4 separate regions of the Homo sapiens genome follow, and regions 1, 3 and 4 are each linked to region 2. The links come from fine-mapping of genetic effects on gene expression. A gene starts in region 2. Each other region holds a variant in brackets. All regions are shown on one strand. Distances are between the middles of the regions.

The links. PIP is the estimated chance that this variant, and not a neighbour inherited with it, causes the effect.
Region 1: its variant is fine-mapped to the expression of GNPAT in blood mononuclear cells (TOPMed, PIP above 0.99). The same link has a PIP of 0.9 or more in lung and whole blood.
Region 3: its variant is fine-mapped to the expression of GNPAT in lung (TOPMed, PIP above 0.99).
Region 4: its variant is fine-mapped to the expression of GNPAT in whole blood (INTERVAL, PIP above 0.99).

The regions. Positions count from the first base shown.
Region 1 is chr1:231,278,139-231,280,823 of GRCh38, reverse strand. No RefSeq gene overlaps it. Among named protein-coding and RNA genes, the nearest start is that of GNPAT, 38 kb to the right of the region's middle. The variant T/G (reference allele first, on the strand shown) is at 1,085.
Region 2 is chr1:231,239,782-231,242,466 of GRCh38, reverse strand. GNPAT (glyceronephosphate O-acyltransferase) reads right to left here and starts at 1,255. Exons shown (of 16, transcript NM_014236.4): 1 at 1,011-1,255. The coding sequence starts at 1,088. FSAF1 (40S small subunit processome assembly factor 1) reads left to right here and starts at 1,292. Exons shown (of 7, transcript NM_152379.4): 1 at 1,292-1,443. The coding sequence starts at 1,326. RefSeq lists enhancers at 353-1,242, 1,223-1,562.
Region 3 is chr1:231,264,107-231,266,791 of GRCh38, reverse strand. It overlaps GNPAT (glyceronephosphate O-acyltransferase), which reads right to left. Exons shown (of 16, transcript NM_014236.4): 5 at 1,372-1,499; 6 at 1,005-1,080; 7 at 627-778; 8 at 385-515. Among named protein-coding and RNA genes, the nearest start is that of GNPAT, 24 kb to the right of the region's middle. The variant A/G (reference allele first, on the strand shown) is at 1,334.
Region 4 is chr1:231,270,817-231,273,478 of GRCh38, reverse strand. It overlaps GNPAT (glyceronephosphate O-acyltransferase), which reads right to left. Exons shown (of 16, transcript NM_014236.4): 10 at 2,479-2,662; 11 at 1,088-1,167. Among named protein-coding and RNA genes, the nearest start is that of GNPAT, 31 kb to the right of the region's middle. The variant T/C (reference allele first, on the strand shown) is at 1,134.

The DNA of each region.
Region 1 (2,685 bases), 38 kb before region 2:
TCCAGATACTGCTTTCTTGGCTACTACATTATACTGTGTTTGATGGGGAGATGGTCTTGAAAAACCAGATGCTGCAAGCTTTTTTTTTTTTTTTTTTTTTTTGAGACGGAGTCTCACTCTGTCACCCAGGCTGGAGGGCAGTGGTGCGATCTCGGCTCACTGCAACCTTCACCTCCTGGGTTCAAGCGATTCTCCTGCCTCAGCCATCTGAGTAGTTGGGATTATAGGCGCCCACCACCACGCCAGGCTAATTTTTTGTATTTTATCTTGACTCATTGCAACCTCCACCTCCTGGGTTCAAGCAATTCTTCTGCCTCAGCCTTCTGAGTAGCTGGGATTACAAGCACCTACCACTATGCCAGGCTAATTTTTTCTATTTTTAGTAGAGACAGGGTTTCCCCACGTTGGCCAGGCTGGTCTCGAACTCCTGACATCAAGTGATCTGCCTGTCTCAGCCTCCCAAAGTGCTGGGATTACAGGCATGAGCCACCATAACCGGCCTGCAGGCTTTCTTTCTACTTACTTCAAAGCAGTGGCAGCTCCAGAATTTATAGGCAGTAGGTAGTGAAGGGGCATAAGCCATGTTTTTTTTTTTTCAGACAGGGTCTCACTCATCATCCAAGCTGGAGTACAGTGGTGCAGTTACAGCTCACTGCAGCCTTGACTTCTCAGGCTCAAGTGATCCTCTCATTTCAGCCTCCTGAGTAGCTGGGACTACAGGTGTGTCCCACTACATCCAGCTAATTTTTGTATTTTTTGTAGAGATGGGGTCCACTATGTTGCCCAGGCTGGTCTTGAACTCCTGGGCTCAAGTGGTCCTCTCGCCTTGGCCTCCCAAAGTGCTGGGATTACAGGCCCGAGCCTCTGCATCCAGCTAGCAATGTGGTTGAAAGGTATGGGTGTGTGTAGCAGCAGGTCTGGGGTTGGGGACAGAGTACATACTTTGAAGGTTGGTAGCACAGTAAGCATGTTATTCTTTCACAATAATTTTAGGTTTATTTAAAGTGTCGAGAGAGGGTGGTTAATGACGAAATTGAGAAGTGATAAGCTCTGCTCCCATGCCTGGAGCTTCTTTTTTTTTCTT[T/G]TTTTTTTTTTTAGACGGAGTCTCGCTCTGTCACCAGGCAGTGGCGCTATCTTGGCTCACTGTAACCTCTGTCTCCCGGGTTCAAGTAATTGTCCTGCCTCAGCCTCACAAGTAGCTGGGACTACAGGCGCGTGTCACCACGCCCAGCTAATCTTTTGTATTTTTAGTAGAGATGGGGTTTCACCATGTTGGCCAGGCTGGTCTTGATATCTTGACCTCATGATCCGCTGGCCTCAGCCTCCCAAAGTGCTGGGATCACAGGTGTGAGCCACCATGCCCAGCCACCTAGAGCTGCTTCTGCTGCAGAGCCTCATTTGGTTTTCACTGCACCCCATTTTCCTTTCACCTCCACATTGTCTGCTTGCTTGACTAATGACAGAGCTGGCCAGGAGACAAGTCTAGCCACTTGCACCCAAAACTCCAAAGTCTTTGTCTAAACTTGGCATGTGTTACAAACAGACCTACAAGGAAATAAAGGTCATCTGACTCATTCTTCAACATGTACATGCACAGCATGAGTGTCAGGGTAAAGAAAAACAAGTAACGAATTGGGTGTATGGGGATTCTTTCTAAGGCATGTCTACATTGCAAGAATTGGCCAGGGTCCTGTTCTCCCAATTGCCCTGGACTCACAGCTTTTCTCTCCCTGGAGAACAGCAGCTCAGGTCCCCTATTCAACAGGCATACAGGAGAGTCCTCAGCCAGGAACACTGTTCAACTGACTCTTCAACTCGCTCTTGGTCAATCTCAACAGACTCCTCCCTGGCTTCCCAAAGAAATCGAGAACCAGCCCCAAGCAGAGCCACAGAGAGGGCCTCCTGGTCACCAATGCATGGAGAAGATGGCTCTCCGATCTCAATGTGCAGCAGAAACAGCCTGGTCCTGGGGAACACACACACACATTGCAGGACCCCTGAATGCAGGTAATCCCAGAATCCCGCCTTAAGAGACTTTTGAGGCCGGGCGCAGTGGCTTATGCCTGTAATCCCAACATGAATCAAATTCATATGTTGAAACCTTTAACCCAATGTGCCTATATTTGGAGAGGAGTCTTTGAGGTGATTAATGTTAGATGAAGTCACGACGGGGGCCTCATGATGGGATCAGTGTCCTTAAAAGAAGAGGCATCAGAGAACTTGCTTCTTCTCCGAGTACACCCAGAGGTCATTCTGAGCACACGGTAAGATGGCAGCCACCTACAAGCCCAGAAAGGGGCCTCAAAATGAACCTACTATGCAAGTACCTTGATCTGGGACTTTCAGTCTCCACAAATGTGAGAAAATAGGTCTGTGTTTAAGCTGCCTAAGCTGTGTTTAAGCTGTTGTGTTATGGCACCCTGAAACTGACTAATGCGCCTGCCTCTGTCTTCAATTTCACTATCTGTGACTCTTGTTCCAGCCATGTTGATCTTTTGGGAGCTCTGGAACCTGCCCCAGGACGTCCTGATCACTATTTTCTCCTGGCACACTGCACTCCACTGTCCCTTCCTCCGTCACTCCAACCCTGCCACTCTAGGGGCTGGCTCCTGCTCAATCCAGTTCTCAGCTTACATGTCACTTCCAGAGGTGGCTACTTGCCAAGGTTTCTGGTGTTACCTACTT
Region 2 (2,685 bases):
TGTTCCAAAGAATATTGGTGTCTCAATTTGAAGGAACCCATATATTCTCTTTCAAAACTGGGGTGTTTATCTTGCTCTGCTGTGTTATCCCTGTTTTGACCTTTCTGCACAAATGAACACTACATTTAAGCCAAAATTGGACAGTAATCACCAGGATATGCTAATATGCTTTTAAAATGAATTCTTTCATTTTCTCCTAAAGTAGCTAAAAACTAATTTAGTGGTTAAAAACAACAAGAAACAAACAAAAACCAAACCAGTTGCCCCAGGTCTGTGCAATCCTGAAGGCTATAAAGCTCCCATCTCATAATTTCTTCATGAAAATCGTGGGTGACCAACATCTGCCAGCCAAAAAGACCCGTTAAAACCAAGAGAGGAAGAGGGGGTTGGAGGAAAAAAAGACAAGCGGGAGAGAAGCTGGGTGGCGCTGGCTGTCCTCCAAAATGATTTGTGGAAAAGGTACAATAATGACTGGAAGACAAGAACAGGCAATAAAAATGTCTAGAAGTTCTAAATTTTCCTGAAGTGTTTAAAACTCTATTCCCACATACAAGCCAAGTGCTCTACTCCCAGGAATATAACAGCAGCATAGGGCGGGGTGCGGAGCCACAGGCTATCTCAGGGCGGGTCAAACCCGCAAGTTTCTCAGGTTTGCCCAAAAGGTAGCTCGACATGCCCTCGCTAGAGATGGGGAGACTCCAATTCTCATTCCTCATTCTCGTGTCCAGGAGCTTTCTGAAGGCCCCAGGGCCTGATAGAAAGAAAGAGAAGGAAAAAGTGGAAAGGAACCAAAGGAACCATAATCCGTAGAAACTTCCAAAAGCATGCACACACAGACACACAGCGATACACTGTTGTCCTGGAAACCAATCCAACCAACTAACCCCTCCTCGGGAGCCTAGGGGCCAGCTCTTTTGGGCAAGGGTGGTGGGCCGGAGGAATAGGGACTGGGAGAAAGGGGTACTATTTCGCGCGGCTCCGCTCTGGGCCTCTTTTCCCTGGGCGCCTACCGAGTAGAGGAGCACGACAGCGCTGGGACTGGTTGGGCCAACGGAGAAATAAGAGTTAGATGAACTGGAAGACTCCATGGTGCGGCTGCCTTCCCGGGCGGGGTCTGGGATTCTTTGCTAAGCCGTGGTGGTGCTCCTGCTGGGGGCGGTTCTTTCGCTCAGGACGGCCCTACTTCGCCTAGGGCGGCGGCACCCTCTGCAGCCGCTACACAGGATCCCGGGCGCCGCCATCTCAGCCAGGACGGAAGCCGCGCAGGGCCCTGCAGCGCATGCGCGCAGTCGCGGAACCCGGAAGCGGGGGTGCAGCGCGGCAGAATGAGGGTTGATTCCTCGGCTGACCCCACAATGTCGCAGGAGCAAGGGCCGGGGTCCTCCACGCCTCCCAGTTCTCCGACACTTCTTGACGCTCTGCTCCAGAACCTTTACGACTTTGGTGAGTGCGGGGTCCCAGGAGCCCACGTGGAGAACAGATTTGAGGAACGTGGGTCTCCTGTGTTGCCCGTCCTGGGTTGGCCTCTGCTTTGAGGCTAAAGGTTCTTGCATGTCAAGCACCCTTCGTCCCACCTGGTTCCAGTAGCGAACACATTTCTCCATCGGAAGTCACCCCTCGACCGGGCTCTGCTGAGTTATTCATCAAACCTTCCAACTCGTCCCCAAGTGTGGGGACCATCCTACTTGCTTGTAGGAAGCACCAAGGCTTTCCGATTTAAAAGTAGCCCGCTTTTCCACGTTTTCTTGAGCCCTGGGAAGTCCCCTTTCCCCATGCCACCCCCAAGACCTGCCTGACCCTGGTGCGATGGTGTCATTTCGCTCTGGGGCCTCGGGCCTGTTGGATAATACACCAGCTTCATCCTTGTGTGTCCCTCTCCAGAGACATCATAGTCCTTGGCGAGTTGTCCTTTTCACGACTTTTTTTTTTTTAAACAAGTGCGCTGATCTTTTACTCTCCGTTCTTTGTCTTGATGGGGGAAAAGGAAAATAAAAGAGCCTATTAAAGTCGCATGGCATGTCAGTAGGAAGACAGTGCCTCATACTCTGAAGAGCTTTCCCGGGAGAAGGTGACACCCTTTGCACATGCACCAAAGAAAATCATTAGATTTCAGGACAACACACATTTCTTAAATTTACAGCGTGATATTTTAAAAGCTATTTTTATTTTGGAATGACTGCTCAAAATTCTAAGTTCACCTAAACAGTAGGAATAATAGTTAAAACTGTTGAGAACTTGCCATATAGCACATGCTTTTCGTGTATTTGCTCATTTAATTTTCAACTTCATGAAATAGACACTGTCATAAATCCATGATTGCAGATGTAGAAACAAGTACTAGAAGTTCATGAAACCTGATGCAGGTTGTCTGACTGGTAATTTTTGCAGAGCCTGGGTTCTGATTCTAGCCCCAGACCCCATGCTTGTATTAACTAGCATTTCTGTGCCCTTGGACATATTGGAGGACAGAGAAGACTTAGTCTCTGACCTTGAGAAGTTTAAAATCTAGAGGAAAAGACTATTCTGCAAAATAATATAGTTCATGTCAACACAGGCTGGAAATCATGGTAGGAGCTCTGAAGGCATTGAATGTGTCTATTCATTTTTATATCCTTAATGCCAAAGTTTAGTTGGCTCTTAAATGTTTATTGTATAAAAGATTAAGCAAATAGTAGCAAGCATAAA
Region 3 (2,685 bases), 24 kb before region 2:
TACCATTATGCAATCCTTTCTAGGGTCAAAAATAATAGTACATACTTTGGCTAGCTTACCAATAGTGCTCAACAATTCCTGCACATATACTTGTTAATAATGGCATTATTTATTCCCACTTTAGTTCCCTTGAGAAACATGATCATTGTCTGATTTTGCATATTTGACATACATATCTCACAGCTTATCTTTTTTTGGGACAAACACATAATTCTTCTTTAATTGAAGGTTTCCACTGATGAAAACGGAATGATAACAGCATTTCTGATCATTTTCTCTGTAATCTTAAGTAAATCAAGAGAAGTGGTCAACTCCAGCATTGCAACTCACACCTTTGGATTTTAATCCTCATTTCTAAGACAGTTATTAAAACACAGGTCACACCTTGGAACCAAGTTATATGAGCTCCGACTCATCCTCCCAGCTGCCAAAGATCGAAGTGACACAGGATCTCCAAAGTACACATGGATGCTTCCAAAATTTTCAGAGAGAATCTTTCTGGCTTTCAGCAACCCCTAATAGTACCATAACAGGGGGGGAAGAAAACGAAAAGCAGTAAATTTAGAAATTAGTTGATGTGTCAGTCAGCACATTCTCTCAATTAAGCTAAAATCAAGCTCACGTACAGTTGTAGACTCTTTTGGTTTAGGAACCCCTAGAAGCTCATACACATAAAGAGTTTCTTCCAAGATCTTATCATAACTGATACTAATTGGGACAAGGTAGGTATCAAAAACTTCTCTTTTAAAAAATGGCTCCATCACAATATTCAGAAGACCTGCAAAACACAGGGAGAAATGCTTCATCAACATATTGAAGAGCAGAGCAAACATGAGCACATAAACGGAAAATACTAAAAGCATACATTATACACTAATCCCGTAAATATCAACAGTTATACATTTACACTTGAAAAGAATATCTTGTTAAATAAAGCGTCAAGTTTTATGTAGCAGCTGATGTCTTTGGGTTTGTATTTTTCCTTTTAATCTGTAGTGACCTACCAAATTTAGGAGTCAATGTCTTGGCAGAGCGGCTTCTTGTCCCTTCGAGGAAAAATTCAACAGGAGCATAACCATTCTTTAAAGAGAAAACAAACAAAACACAAAACCCATTGCCTACTCTCAAAATGATAAATGCTTCTTTTGATTCCTTTTCCCAAGCTCCCTCCCAAGCTTCCTGAACAAACACAGCTTACAGTGAAAATTAAACAAGAGAGTCACACAGATTAAACCAATTGCTGAGGTTATAAGCAGTTCTTGAGGGAAAGCAAAATAGCTAAGTGTTCTATTCAGAAGTTAAGAGTTTAAATGAGCAAACATCAGTGAAGAAA[A/G]TATGGCTTAAGAGTAGTTGGGAATTATTTGCATTTACCCGTAACATAGTTTTTACATATTCAGAGAATACAGCCCAGTAGAGTTTATTGCCACCAAAGGTACGCCGCATGAAAAAGGCACCCGACATTCGTAGCAGCTCACCAACCATTTTCATTCCCAGGAAGTCTAAAAAAGAGGGGATAATATTTATTTGCAGATCTTGAAATCTTCTATAAAGATCTAAACTTAAACATGCTTATTTTTCATTTATATTTTATTATTTTATTTTATGAGACAGGGTCTCGCTATGTTGGCTAGGTTGGTCACAAACTTCCTGGCCTCAAGCAGTCCTCCTGCCTCGGCCTCCCAAAGTACTGGGATTACAGGCATAAGCCACTGTGCCTGGCCTAAACTCAAACATTATTAAGAAAGATTTCATAAATGTAAGACACCCCTATGATATTATTATACTTTGACATTAAAATACATAAGAGATACCTAATAGAATTATAGAAAAGAAGGGATTCTGTGGGCCAGGTGCTCACTGGGAGGTTACCTTGTGCTTCTCCATGCACCACTCCCTTTACAAGTAGGCCAGCTAGAGCCAGGGGCAACAGCAGAGCAACATGACAATGTCATGATGTCAATGTCTTTAGTCAGCCATGCTGCTGAGCCTGACAACAGACCAATATGTGCCCTTCATGCTCTGGACAGCCAGGCCAAACCCGCTCTCATCTTTTGCCTACCAGGAAAAAACATCAACCTACTTTTGTTGGAAGAGATTAAATAAGGCAAATCTTGTAAGAAAGGAAGATTGCTACCAGCAGTTTTAAAATAGTCTTTCTCTTCATTTCCCCTAGTTTTCAAATAACTTCCTCACAAGTTTGTTCAGATGAAAATGCTTTTAAAGTGCTTAAGTTCTTGGCAGTTTTAACCTTACCATTCACTGCATTTATTAACAAACGTGTATACTTGAATCCTGGCTTTCCTGGCTACCCTAAAAGGGAGTGGATAAACAACTTATATGCCTTAGCAATCCCACTTTTAGGAATCGATCTTACAGGAATAAAAGCACCAATATAAAAATGTATTATGACATTGTTTATAACAGCAAAACTACTAAATTATGAAATATCCACACTGCTGAATATTATATGGCTATTAAAATTAATGTTAGACATGAAGTTGGACCCTTAACTTACACCATATACAAAAATTAACTCAAAAAACCAAAGATCTTAATGTAAGACCTGAAACCATAAAACTCTTAGGATAAAACATAAGGGAAAAGCTTCATGACCTCGGATTTGGCAATGATTTCTTCGATCTGATACCAAAAGCACAGGGAACCAGGGAACCAAAGAAACAAATA
Region 4 (2,662 bases), 31 kb before region 2:
GAGATCGAGACCATCCTGGCTAACACAGTGAAACCCCGTCTCTACTAAAAATATAAAAAATTAGCCGGGCGTAGTGGTGGGCGCCTGTAGTCCCTGCTACTTGGGAGGCTGAGGCAGGAGAATGGAGTGAACCCGGGAGGCAGAGCTTGCAGTGAGCTGAGATTGCGCCACTGCACTCTAGCCTGAGCGACAGAGCCAGACTCCACCTCAAAAAAAAAAAAAAAAAAAAAGTTTCCAACACTCCTGTTCCACTCCCTACAGAATCAAACCTCTTATCCTTAAAGCACACAAACACCTAACATGCCTCTCATCTACTGTCACTTCCCACTTCAACCCAGCAGCAGTCCAGCTCTGCGAGCCTGATGACCCCTCAGCTGTCTAGACCAGGCAGGACCAGCACTCACTACTCTCAAAGTAAAAGGCACTTGCCTGGGTGACTCATTCTAACAACTTGCTAACAGGAAAATGTGTGCTGATTTTGTTGTGTTTGGTTTCTTTTTTTTTGAGATGGAGTCTTCCTCTTGTCACCAGGCTGGAGTGCAGTGGCACAATCTTGGCTCACAGCAACCTCCACCTCCCGGGTTCAAGTGATTCTCCTGCCTCAGCCTCAGCCTCCTGAGTAGCTGGGACTACAGGCATGCGCCACCACGCCCAGCTAATTTTTGTATTTTTAGTACAGACGGGGTTTCACCATGTTGGCCAGGATGGTCTCGATCTCTTGACCTCGTGATCCGCCTGCCTCGGCCTCCCAAAGTGCTGGGATTACAGGCATGAGCCACTGCGCCCGGCTGTGTGCTGATTTTTAAACGTTTACTAAAATAAAGTTAGTTTAGTTGTAATGGCCACACTGATAGTTCAAAGAATGACTCTCCTCTCACCATATAATCCCTAAGTTATTAATTAAACTTGATCAAGAATCAAACTAGAGTCTGCTGAACTGTGAGCGCCCCAGTTTCTCTTGAAGTCTGCCCCACTTTGCCTTGAAGAAAGGGATGGCACACTGCCTGAGACACATCTGTGAATTCACCCCTAACATTTCTAGAACTCACACTGCAAACATACTTGCTCTTTGTTGTAAGCACTTTACCTTTAGTGTGTTTCCTGGAAGGAAGATGAACTCATCTGCAAAAACA[T/C]CACGTAGGAAGCGAAAGCAACTGTAGACATCCTCTGGAAATAAATGCATCATGTAAAATTACAACATTGCCCTTTAAACTTTAAGGGAGTACCAGGAAGTCCTTACTATCACAAAATGTATTTCAAAGGCATATTTTATTCATGTAACAGGGACAAGAATTAAGTCCCCTGAGGGAAGCTAAATTAAACCCAAATCTTACCCACAGAGCAAACTACGGTCTAGCATAGTTTGTTTTTTGTTTTTTGAGATGGAGTCTCGCTCTGTCACCCAGGCTGGAGTGCAATGGTGCAATCTTGGCTCACTGCAACCTCCGCCTCCTGGGGTCAAGCGATTCTCCAGCCTCAGCCTCCCAAGTAGCTGGGATTACAGGCACTCGCCGCCATGCCCAGCTAATTTTTGTATTTTAATAGAGACAGGGTTTCACCATGTTGGTCAGGCTGGACTCGAACTCCTGACATCGTGATCCTCCTACCACGGCCTACCAAAGTGCTGGGATTACAGGCGTGAGCCACTGCGCCCGGCCCTAGCATAGTTTTTAAATGATTGACTCTAACCTACAACCAGGCTTCTACTCAGCGAGACATCACAGTCCTTAGAGGCCAGGACGCTTCATTTTTCCCTACCCCATGGCTCCCTAGTAGGGAAGGAAAGGTACTGATTTCTTAATTTCCCTCTATATTCATATTTCCTGGTATCTTTATTATATCTGTAGCACTTTTCCTTAGAATCACTGTGGAGCTTTGAAAAGCCAAAACCAAAACCAAAACCAAACACCAATGGCTGGCCCATACCCCAGGTCAACTGAAGAAACTTTGGGGTGGGGCTCACTCCCCTAGTAATTCTAACATAGGGCCTTGACAGAACCCCCTGGCCTTGACTACAGGCTCCTGTGAACATGACGTGTACTGTACTCATTTTTATACTCCTGATACAATTAGAACAAGACCATGCATCTCGGGAGTACTCATCGACTGCTGACTGCTCATCTGCCCACCTGCCTTTGCTGGATCAGGGAGCTGGCACAGCCAAAACAGTGCCGCAGACCAGGAAGTGGAGAACTGTACTCAAATGCCAGATCCTTCTCTCAGTAATTATGCAACTTTCTAGGCCTCATTTTCCATATTTATAGAAGGAAAGGTTTAGATTATTTCCAGGTCCTCCCAATTCCAAAATTCGAAGCAGATGAACAAGTATTTGGGGAACAAAGCTAACTTTTTCTCAGTGATAGGCCTGCTCTTCACCGGCGTGAGGCTGAACATTACAAGGCTTCAAATGTGGCTCCCTAAATGGAATGGAATGGCCAGACCTCTTCTAAAAGTCAAGATTGCATTCCTGAAAATTACCTTTCCTGAACCCTGGTGTCATCTGCAATGCTACTGCTACTAAGGATGGGCGCACAAAAATGTTGAGCAGCTGGTTCCTATAAGCTGAGCACATGAGGAGAGTGATGTGCTGGAGCATAAGCCCATCGACCACTTCCGAGTCTCCGGAGTCCACTTTCAGAATCACCTGGTCTTTGACAAGGCT